2 separate regions of the Homo sapiens genome follow, and region 2 is linked to region 1. The links come from fine-mapping of genetic effects on gene expression. Tissue or cell type: whole blood. Region 1 holds a variant in brackets; the other region holds the start of a gene. All regions are shown on one strand. Distances are between the middles of the regions.

Evidence for each region. PIP is the estimated chance that this variant, and not a neighbour inherited with it, causes the effect.
Region 2: it holds the start of RAP1GAP2, and the variant in region 1 is fine-mapped to the expression of RAP1GAP2 in whole blood (TOPMed, PIP 0.96).

The regions. Positions count from the first base shown.
Region 1 is chr17:3,042,533-3,047,677 of GRCh38, forward strand. No RefSeq gene overlaps it. Among named protein-coding and RNA genes, the nearest start is that of OR1D5, 19 kb to the right of the region's middle. The variant AAG/A (reference allele first, on the strand shown) is at 2,132.
Region 2 is chr17:2,794,002-2,799,146 of GRCh38, forward strand. It overlaps RAP1GAP2 (RAP1 GTPase activating protein 2), which reads left to right and starts at 2,437. Exons shown (of 25, transcript NM_015085.5): 1 at 2,437-2,570. The coding sequence starts at 2,527.

The sequences.
Region 1 (5,145 bases):
GTGAAGGCCTCTTAGATGGGGTGCAGTTCTAAGGAAAGTTCAGGGCTGGGCACGGTGGCTCACGCCTGTAATCCCAGCACTTTGGGAGGCCGAGACGGGTGGATCACAAGGTCAAGAGTTCAAGACCAGCATGGCCAAGATGGTGAAACCCCGTCTCTACTAAAAATACAAAAATTAGCTGGGCGTGGTGGCGGGAGCCTGTAATCCCAGCTACTCGGGAGGCTGAGGCAGAGAATTGCTTGAACCCAGGAGGTGGAGGTTGCAGTGAGCCGAGATCGCACCACTGCACTCCAGCCTGGGTGACAGAGCGAGACTCTATCTCAGAAAAGAAAAAAAAAAAAAAAAAAAAAAAAGGATGAGTTGATGAGTGACTCCATCGAGTGAAATAATAACACAAAGCAGCTCATATCAAAGGACTAATAAAAACAAACTGCAACATAACCAGCTCCACATAAAAATGTACAAATGAATGATCATACACACACCAGTGAGGCTGTACTAGGAAAGGCACAGACACTTCATAAGAAAGATGGTAGAACGCTTGCTCAAATTATTGGGTCAAATGAATTTTATGGATCCTCCTGCAAGACATTCCATTAAAAAATTAAATATTAGACCAGCAAGGAAGTCTTTATGGCCTTGTTCTAAAATGCCGATTGTTGGGTTTTATAAGAACTTATCACTAGTAAGAAATATGAGGAAAAATCCAGGGAATATGGACAATGGGGTCCAGATAAAATCCAACTATGCCACTGAAAGTGCAATAGTGAATATAATGGAAACGATTTTACCTTTTTTAGTTACAGAATTTTCCACTAAGAAAGAGAGTTTCTAAAACTAGGAAGGATAAAACTCTAGCAGAGACAAACAACTGTAACCTACTACAAGGACTCAGCAATGTTAATGTTATCTGAGATTTTAATTTAGTGACATTTTATTGCCAGCTAGTATTAACTACGATGACTTTGTTGCAGGGGTTGAACCCAGTTCAAACTACTTTAAGCCAAAAAGGGGAGCATTTGTTAAAAAGATACAGGAGTGTCTCCTGGAATCAAAGGACAGGGATGCATCTGTGCCACATGAAGGACAGCAAAGGTTGTCAGCCCTCAGGCAGTCTCTTGCCTCTGCTTTCTGTTTTTTTTTTTTTTGGCTTCTGCTTTTTTCTCTGTGCTTCTCTGTATTTATTTTCTTTCTATTGGGTTGTTGGCATTGTCTTTATGGATTTGGGATGACTTTTTGTGTAGCTTTATTCTTTCCTTGAGGACCAGCTGAGCTGATCTCAGCACCAGATTTTCCCTTCACTGTCTGGACTGTGAAAATGGATCTGGGCCCTTCAATATGTTTCCTTTGTCAGCGGCACCGTGTTGCGCTTTGTCAGTAGAGGGCGCCAGAGAGACACTGCAGGAGGGACAGAGTTTTATCTCCCGGTTCTCCCGTGCTTGCTTGGCAACCTCTTAATTCCCACTTGGCTCTTGTAGCACATGCTGCATCTGGGGGTCTGGTTCCTGCAGGGTGGGCACCTCTGCCAGCACCAGGTTCTTTCAGGGCACACAGCCTTTCCAGCACCCCTCCCCTGCCCATCCCCAGCCTCTCCAGTGCCCACCCCCTGCAGGGCATGACACACAGCCGCGCCCCGTGGCTAGCTGCTTCTCCTGCCAGCAACTCCTTCCTGTCTGCTGGTCCCCACCACAGTGCCCCAGTGGTCTTGCAGCACAGTACCTCCAGTGAGACACCTCCCCATGAACAGAGGGTGGATTTTCAGTATGCTTTACTGGTGTGGCACCACAGCGACTTTTCCATCCAGTGACCCAAGGCCATCCAGGGCTGGATCGTAGCATAGTCCTGGCGGTGGGGGCGGGCAGCTCTTCCTTGGATGCTCTATCTTACCCTTAGGGGTGGAGGCTGCTCCTTATTTCCGCTATTCCTGTATCTGTTAGAGTTGTCTTCGCTTATTAGTAGCCAATCCCTCAGTACTCCAATCCCCTGCTAAAGAATTCTTTATATGAAACCTTCCTATGCAAGTTACTGTGTGGCTTCTCTCTCCTGATTGGACCCAGACTAACAGAGCAGCTTTCTCAGTTTCTCTGGGGAGAACCTTTCTGTATCACATGAATCCACATCTCCCTCATTT[AAG/A]AGGGAGTCCAGGGCTAGTGTCTGGTTCTATTCCAGAGTCCCATGAGGGAGACTCTGATCAGCCCAAGAGGGTCAGGTGATGACCTCCTACTCTGATCAACTCCACCCAGTGGGCTGGACTTGTGGGTGCCACAGATAGCCCTGTGGGTGATGGGGGGCTGTTAAAGGGTTCTTGTGAGCTGGCACGTTCCCAATGGGTGTCTACTACAGAACCCTGTTTATTAAAGACAAAAGTGGTGTATGGAAACCTGGGTTATGCTGATAACCTAAAATACCTGACCATTTCATGAACATGGGAAGAGTAGCAGTGACGCGAAAGTAAAACCGACATTGCAAAAGCTTCTACTGACTTTTGTTTCCTGCTGACTTTTAAAACAACATTTATACAATTTTGTCAGTTGTACCTCAATAAAACCGAAAAAAAAATTAAATGGTACAGCACAAGAACTTATAAGAACATTTTTCTATGCACCAGAGCATTTTGGTTGAAATTTTTTTTTTTTAAATTTCAATAGCTTCTGGGGTACAAGTGGATTTTGGTTACATGGATGAACGGCATAGTCATGAAGTCTGAGAGTTTAGTGCATCCATCACCCAGGTAGCGTACATTGTACCAAATATGTAGTATTTTCTCCCTCACCCCCTCTCACCCTCCCACTTCTTAGTCTACATAGCTCGTTATACCACTCTGTATGCTTTTGCGTACCCATAGCTTAGCTCCCACTTATAAGTGAGAACATATGGTATTTGGTGTTCCATTCCTGAATTACTTCATTTAGAATAATGGCCTCCAGCTCTATCCAAGTTGCTGCACAAAACATATTTTGTCCTTTTTATATGGCTAAGTAGTATTCCATGGTTATATATACTACATTTTCTTTTTTTTTTTTAAATTATCCTTTAAGTTCTGGGGTACATGTGCGGAACGTGCAGGTTTGTTACATAGGTATACATGTGCCATGGTGGTTTGCTGCACCCATCAACCCGTCATCTACATTAGGTATTCTACTAATGCTATCCCTCCCCTAGCCCCCCATCCCACCGACAGACCCCAGTGTGTGTTATTCCCCTCCCTGTGTCCATTGTTTCTCATTGTTCAACTCCCATTTATGAGTGAGAACACATGGTGTTTGGTTTTCTGTTCTTACGTTAGTTTGCTGAGAATGATGGTTTCTAGCTTCATCCATGTCCCTGCAAAGGACATGAACTCATCCTTTTTTTATGGCTGCATAGTATTCCCTGGTGAATATGTGCCACATTTTCTTTATCCAGTCTATCATTGATGGGCATTTGGGTTGGTTCCAAGTCTTTGCTATTGTGAACAGTGCCGCACTAAACATATGTGTGCATGTGTCTTTATAGTAGAATGATTTATAATCCTTTGGGTATATACCCAGTAATGGGATTGCTGGGTCAAATGGAGATCCTAAAGGAATCGCCACACTGTCTTCCACAATGGTTGAACTAATTTACACTCCTACCAACAGTGTAAAAGCATTCCTATTTCTACACAACCTCTCCAGCACCTGTTGTTTCCTGACTTTTTAATGATCGCCATTCTAAGTGGTGTGAGATGGTATCTCATTGTGGTTTTTATTTGCATTTCTGTAATGACTAGTGATGGAATTAGTTCTCTTAACCCTATTCCCTTTCTTCATCTTCCCAAAATATAACAGTATTTTGAGTTATGTGGCAGTCAGTATACTGGTCATTATAATGATATAAATCTTGTTTACTATAAAATTAAGTAGAATTTTATGTCCTTTCTTGTACAACTTTACGTTTTCCCTGGAATGACTAATTACCTTCACTTTAATTTGCCTTCTTCCTCATATACACAGTCTCATTTTTTCCCTTATGTTCTATGAGGGCTACTATTTTCCTGGTACCAAACTCATTGGAGCCTGATTTCTTTTTGCTTCAATTTGGCCTTGTTACTTTCTAGGCCTGCTTAGCACAGCTGTATTCCCCAGACTTCTTTTTTGGGTAACATCTGTGATTTTCTGGATCCCATGAACTCCTTGTTCTTGACTTACTCCTGAGTTTTGCTGGAGCTCACCCCCCAGTAGCTTCTTAAGGAAGGATGGAAGACAAATGTGTTAAGTCCTTTCACATCTGAAAATGTCTCTATTCTCCCCTACACTAGATGACTAGTTTGGCTGGAAATTCTGTGTTGAAAATATTTATTTCCACAGAATTTTGAGGGCATCACTCCGCTGTCTTCTAGCATCCAGAGTTACCATTTTGATTCTTGAGCTTTTGTAGTTGATCATGTTTTTTTTTTTGCTGATCTGTTTTTTTTTTCCCGGAAGTATTTATGATCCGCATATGCCAGCATCAAAGACTTAAAAGATGTTGTGCAGGAAACAACCTGTTCCCTGCAAGACCAAAGGCAAATATTTCATTATATGCAGATGTTATGATTGCATACTTGGAAACACAAAGAATGTCCATTGAAAATTATTACTAACAATAAGAGAATAGAATGTATATACAGTTGATCTGAAATTTGTTGATATATCTTGGCATGAGTTTAAACAATTGCTTTCATTGTTTTGGACCTTCAATGATTCTTTAACCTTGATATATGTGACCTTCAGGTTAGGGGCATTTTATGCTATTTCTTTGATTTTATTGGAACCTTATAATTCCATATAAACTTAAGATCAAGTTTTCTAGTTCTCCAAAGTCTTTTTGGAACTTTTCTTAGGGTCACGATAAAGTTTTAATTTAGGGAGATTTGACATTTTTATTACATAGAAACTTCCTATTCACAAATATATCTTTCTATTATTTCAAGTTTTCTTTTTATGTACTCCAGTAGAAATATATATATATATATATATATATATATATATATATATATATATATAAAATTTTTTTTTCTTTGACATGGAGTGTCGCTGTGTCGCCCAGGCTGGAGTACAGTGGTGTGATCTCGGCTCACTGCAACCTCTGCCTCCCGGGTTCAAGTGATCCTCCTGCCTCAGCCTTCAGAGTAGCTGGGATTAC
Region 2 (5,145 bases), 250 kb before region 1:
GGCAGGGGAATCACTTGAACCAGGGAGGTGGAGGTTGCAGTGAGCCGTGCCACTGCACTCCAGCCTGGGTGACAGAGCGAGACTCTTCAAAAAAAAAAAAAAAAAAGACATGATCTTTCTCCTCTTTCCCTTTCTCTGTCAGTTCTCTTCTCTGCCTTCCTGTGAGTCGGTTTCATTTTCCCCACACTCTCCACAGCCCCAGGCTTTCATCTCATGCTTCAGCAGGGGAAGCCTCTTGGGATGGTGTCTTGTTGGGTTTACTTAGGTCTCCTGAACCAGTCCCCTTGGCTGGCCAGGCCTGGTCAGGTGCCCACTCCTGACCCTGGAGGTGGATTGAGTGCAGAGGGTTCTTCTCAGATGGAGGCAGGGCAGGCAGGACCCAAGTTGTCCACGGTACCTGTTGAGCACTTCCTGGGTGTGGGTGGGTGCCTCTGGGGAGAGAGGCGCTTGTGGCACTCTGCAGTGGCCATCCTGTGGGAAGCCAGCAGCCTGAAGCCACCCCAGAGCATGAACCACACAATCCTAACTTTCCTGGGGCAGAGGTGAGGGTTGGGGGAAGCCTCCGGGCTCCTGCTGGGGACTAGCTGCCTTGGAGGTAGAGAGTCAGCCCCCAGCCCTGCTCTGGCCCAGGACCCTGAAGCTGCTCCCCCAGCCCACTCAGGGCTTGAGGCCCCTGTGCTGTCCCCTGCTGTGAAGGAGTCAAGAAAATAGAAATCCTTGTACCCTTCGTCCACAAGCTGGGGTTGGCCCCTGGCACCTCAGCACGGAGTCTAGGACCTTCACAGTGGCAGCAGGTGCCAGAGAGGAAATTTCAGGGAGGGTTGGCCAGAGAGAGAGGCCAATGGCACCAGCTAGGGCCGTTTTTTTCCTTTTTTTTTTTTTTTTTTTTTTTGAGATGGAGTTTTGCTCTTTGTTGCACAGGCTGGAGTACAACAGCATGATCTTGGCTCACTGCAACCTCTGCCTCCCAGGTTCAAACGATTCTCCTGCCTCAGCCTCCAGAGTAGCTGGGATTATAGGTACCTGCCATCATGCCTGGCTCATTTTTGTATTTTTAGTAGAGATGGGGTTTCACCATGTTGGCCAGGCTGGTCTCGAACTCCTGACCTCAGGTGATCCACCCGCGTTGGCCTCCCAAAGTGCTGGGATTACAGGTGTGAGCCGCCACACCCGGCCTTTCTTCTTCTTCTTTTTTTTTTTTTGAGACGTTTTCTTCCCTTTCTCCACTGCTTGGGGGTAGGGTGGGGCCTGGGGCCCTATCTGTGCCCACTCCCCCCAGTGTCTGTTGTAGTGTACGTGCCACATCCCTTTGAGGGGCTGCCATTAGTAAGTGCCTGCTGTGTACCAGGTGTGGTCAGCACCAGTGCGTGCAGAGATGAGCACTGGCCCTGTGGTGTGCAGACTGGGATGCGTGCAGGACACGCTAGCCCTGTGGCATGAGGACCAGCACCTGAGCATGCAGAGATGAGGACGAACCCTGCGGTTCAGCTGGGAAGACAAATCCACCCGCACATGGGTACCGCCCCCCCACCCCACACAGCCAGCGTGAAGCATGCCACTGCTCTGACCTCTGTCTAGACACTTGGCGGCGGGGGTGGGGGGCGGCTGACAGGTACAGCTCTGTGCCCATGTGTGTGTACATGCGAATGCCCCTTGCAGTGTGATGTGGTCTGAGTATGTGGATGAGTGCCTGCGGGCACATGTGTATGCGTTCATGTCTGTGCACGTGTCCAATGGGGCTTTGTCAGTATGTGAGAAGCGTGTGCAGGTGTGTCTACTGATGCCTGTGTGAAGTGGTGTGTGGATGTGCACGGGAGCGTGTGTGCCGCGCTGTGCTCAGGTGTGTACAGGTGTCTAATGATACGTATGTCTGCGTGCATGTATCTGTGTGTACCTGGGTATCCTGGGCGTGTGTGTGTCCATGTGTGCATCCCACGTGCCCCTGTGCCCATGCGTGTGCATGTATACTTACATCCACGTGTGCTAGTGGAATGACATGTGTGTGGCTGGTTCCTCTGGCGTGTGCCGAGCCATGGTGGGGCAGGCAGGCAAAGGTCCCTGTCTCAGGCAGCCCTCGGGAGTGGGTGTGAAGGTCCCCAGTGCTCAGGCGTCCCTGAGGCTTCCAGCTGAATCTTTCTGTCCCTCCTAGGCGTGGCTGTGGGAATCCTTGGGGCGCCTTTGGGTTCCAGGAAGCTGGGGCTGTGTGGGCCGGGCTGCTAACTGGGGCTGTGGAGCAATCTGCCAGCCGAGCCCCTTCCGGAGCTGTGGGTTCCTCTGGGTGTGGGGAAGCTGCCCTCCACAACCTCCTCGGCCTATCTTGGTGCCTCCTGGAGTGCAGGACACACCTCCCAGCTCTGCAGCCTCACCCACAGGAAGCTCGGGTTGGGGGCAGGCGAAGAGGGAGGTGCCACGCTGGGCTCCCCGCCCTGCACCGGCACTGACCCCGCTGTACCACGGCCCTCTTGCGGACAGCCCCGGGGACGTCGTTGGGACATCGCTGGGACCCCGGGCTCTGCAGCCACAACCATGTTTGGCCGGAAGCGCAGTGTCTCCTTTGGGGGCTTCGGATGGTGGGTGACAGGTGGGAGGGTGGGGGAATGATGGGAGAGAACTTAGAAGTGAAGTCTTGTTAAGTGCATTGGCGGCCGTGGGAACAGAGGGGCTCGGGCTGTGCCTGAGAGCTGGGTCTGCTGACGCCCTGGCAGGTCGAGATGCAGGATCCTGGTGGGGACATCAGAGACCGTAAGCCTTCCCCACTGTCCCTGGGCACAATCTGCTGGCGAATCCTGGAGGTCTGCGCCGGCTGCCCGTGGGGAGGTGGATAGCATGAGTGTGACTGCAGTTGAATGTGTGTGTCTCTGTGTCCGCAGGTTCCCATGTATGTGTGTGCGTGTCTGGGATTATGTGTAAGTGTGTGTGTGCGCGTTTGAGCCTGTGTGTGCAGGCGTGTGTGTGTGGCTGTGACTGCCAGTCCGTGTGACCGTGTGTGAGGTGTGTGCCTGTGCATGTGGGCAGCTGCCTGTCTGCACTTCTGGCCTTCTGTGTCTGTGTGTGCTTGTGTCTGCGTGTTTGTGTGTGTGATGCTCCTGTCTGTGCTGTTGTTGTGGCCTTGTGGCAGGGGAGTCTGTACCTGCTGGACCTCTGGGCTGCCTGCTGTCTTGGGGGTGGGTTGTGAGAGAAGGTCTCCCACCTGCACCCCAGGCAGCCCACCCTAGCTCTGTCCTAGCCTGAGCAGCTGCATCTGTCCCCAGCCTCCTGCCTGGCCCTCTGGACACTCTTGCCTCTAAGCTTCTGTCTGGGATGAGGGATGTGCTTTTTCTTCCCGGCGGGGGGCAGAAGGTAGGCACACGAAGGCCAAAGGCTTGTCTCTGGTTCCCAGTGCTGGCAGCTTCTTCGCAGCTGGGGAACAGAGTCTGGTGGTTTTCATGATCGGTTTCCTTTCAGTGCCTGGGCTGGGGGCGTTGTCAGACTGGGAGAGGGCCCCGCGGGAGGTGGCCGGGGGGTGTCCCGGTGTGGAAAATGGTGGACTAATGGGGGTGGCACGAAGGGCGAGGGGGAGAGGGGCTGTGTTCCTCGGTAATTTTTCGCTTCCGTGTGTGTGGCTTATTTCCCTCTTCCTCCTCTTCAAAAGCACTTTGCCATCCATCCTCTGGCAGGGGGGGACTGTGGGCACTCCATGTTTGGCAGATGGGATGGTGCGGATGAGAAGATGGCACAGCGTCGCCTGTGTCTGCTCTCGGGCCCTCCCTGACGCCTGGATCTGGGAGCTGCCACCCCGAGGGTAGGTGCCAGTGTCCGGGAGGCAGCAGAGGACTTGGCTTCTGGTTGGGAGGGGTGTGTGTGTCTTGGCTGTGGGCCTTGCAGGGCAGGGCCCAGCAATTAGATTGTGCCCTCCAAGGCCCGCCTTTCTCTGGGAGGTGTGGAGCAGATGGAAGGCTGGTCGCCAGAAAGCTCCGGGTGCACAGGTCCCGGTCTCAGCCTAGCTTCATTCCATATGAAGCCCTCTGTGTTGAGACCCACAGCTCCAGAGCACAAGGCAAAGCCAGGCCTGAGATTTGAATCTGGGCAGGTGAGGGGGAAGACAGGAGTGTGGCTGCCCAGGGCTGCCAAGATAGAAAGCAGAATTCCAAGTTCTTCTCTAGCAGCCCTTCTCACTGGGGCTTCCTTAATGAAATGCACATTCAGATTCAGGAGGTCTAGGGTGAGCCGAAGGTGGAGGAAGAGCCCTAGGATGTCCCAGACGCCCTTGTGTGCTGGCTCAGTGTCCACTAGGCTGTGGGTTCCAGGAGGGCAGGCCCTGCCCCGTCGCGTTCACCTGGAAGCCTGGCATGTCACACAGGCTCAGTCGATGCTTGTGGACTCATCGAGGTCTTTTGCACACAGCAGGTGTCTGCTTGGGGCCCCTTGAGGTTGACGGGATGGCGGGGCCTTCTGGGCTTGGAAGGTTAAGGCAGCAAGAAAGGGGGCGAGACTGGGGTTTGGGCCTCCTCATCTGGGATGGCTGTCAGCTGGGAGGGGGTGTCACGGATTCCTGGAGCCCTGGTCCCTCCAGACAGTGAACAGAATCTCTGGGGCTGGTGTTTTCCAAGCTCCATTGGATGCAGGGTGGATAACCTCTGGCACCAGGGGCAGACAAGGTGATGAGGGTGGGTGGGATGGGATGGGAGAGGGAGGAGTGCCCAGGAGCCTTGGCTTCCTGAAAGGGAAAGGCCCAGCCTCACAGTCCTCTCCATCTCCCATCTCAGCCTCTCCAAAACCAGAGCCCTGCCCTCCTGAGGCCACACCCTGATGTGGGAACTCTGGTGGGCTGGCTGCTGTGTAGGCGTGGTTTGAACCAGGGCTGCTGTGACCACGGTGCCTGTAGGTGGTGCGGTGGGCGGGGCTGACCCGACAGCGGTCAGAGGTGCACGCACCAGGAGCCCCGGTTCCAGCGGTTCCAGCGCCGACTCCACCTTGACCATTGAGGAACTCTAATGGGACACTTCCTCTCTCTGGGTCTCAGTTTCCCCTTGTGTCAGTGGGGGATTTCTGCCTTACCCACAACACAGGGCTGTTGTAAGAATTAGGAGATTCCTTGAGAAAATGTAAAACCTAAGCGCCTGCTGTGAGGGGCTGCCATCCGGCAGCTCTGGGTTGCACGCGTTA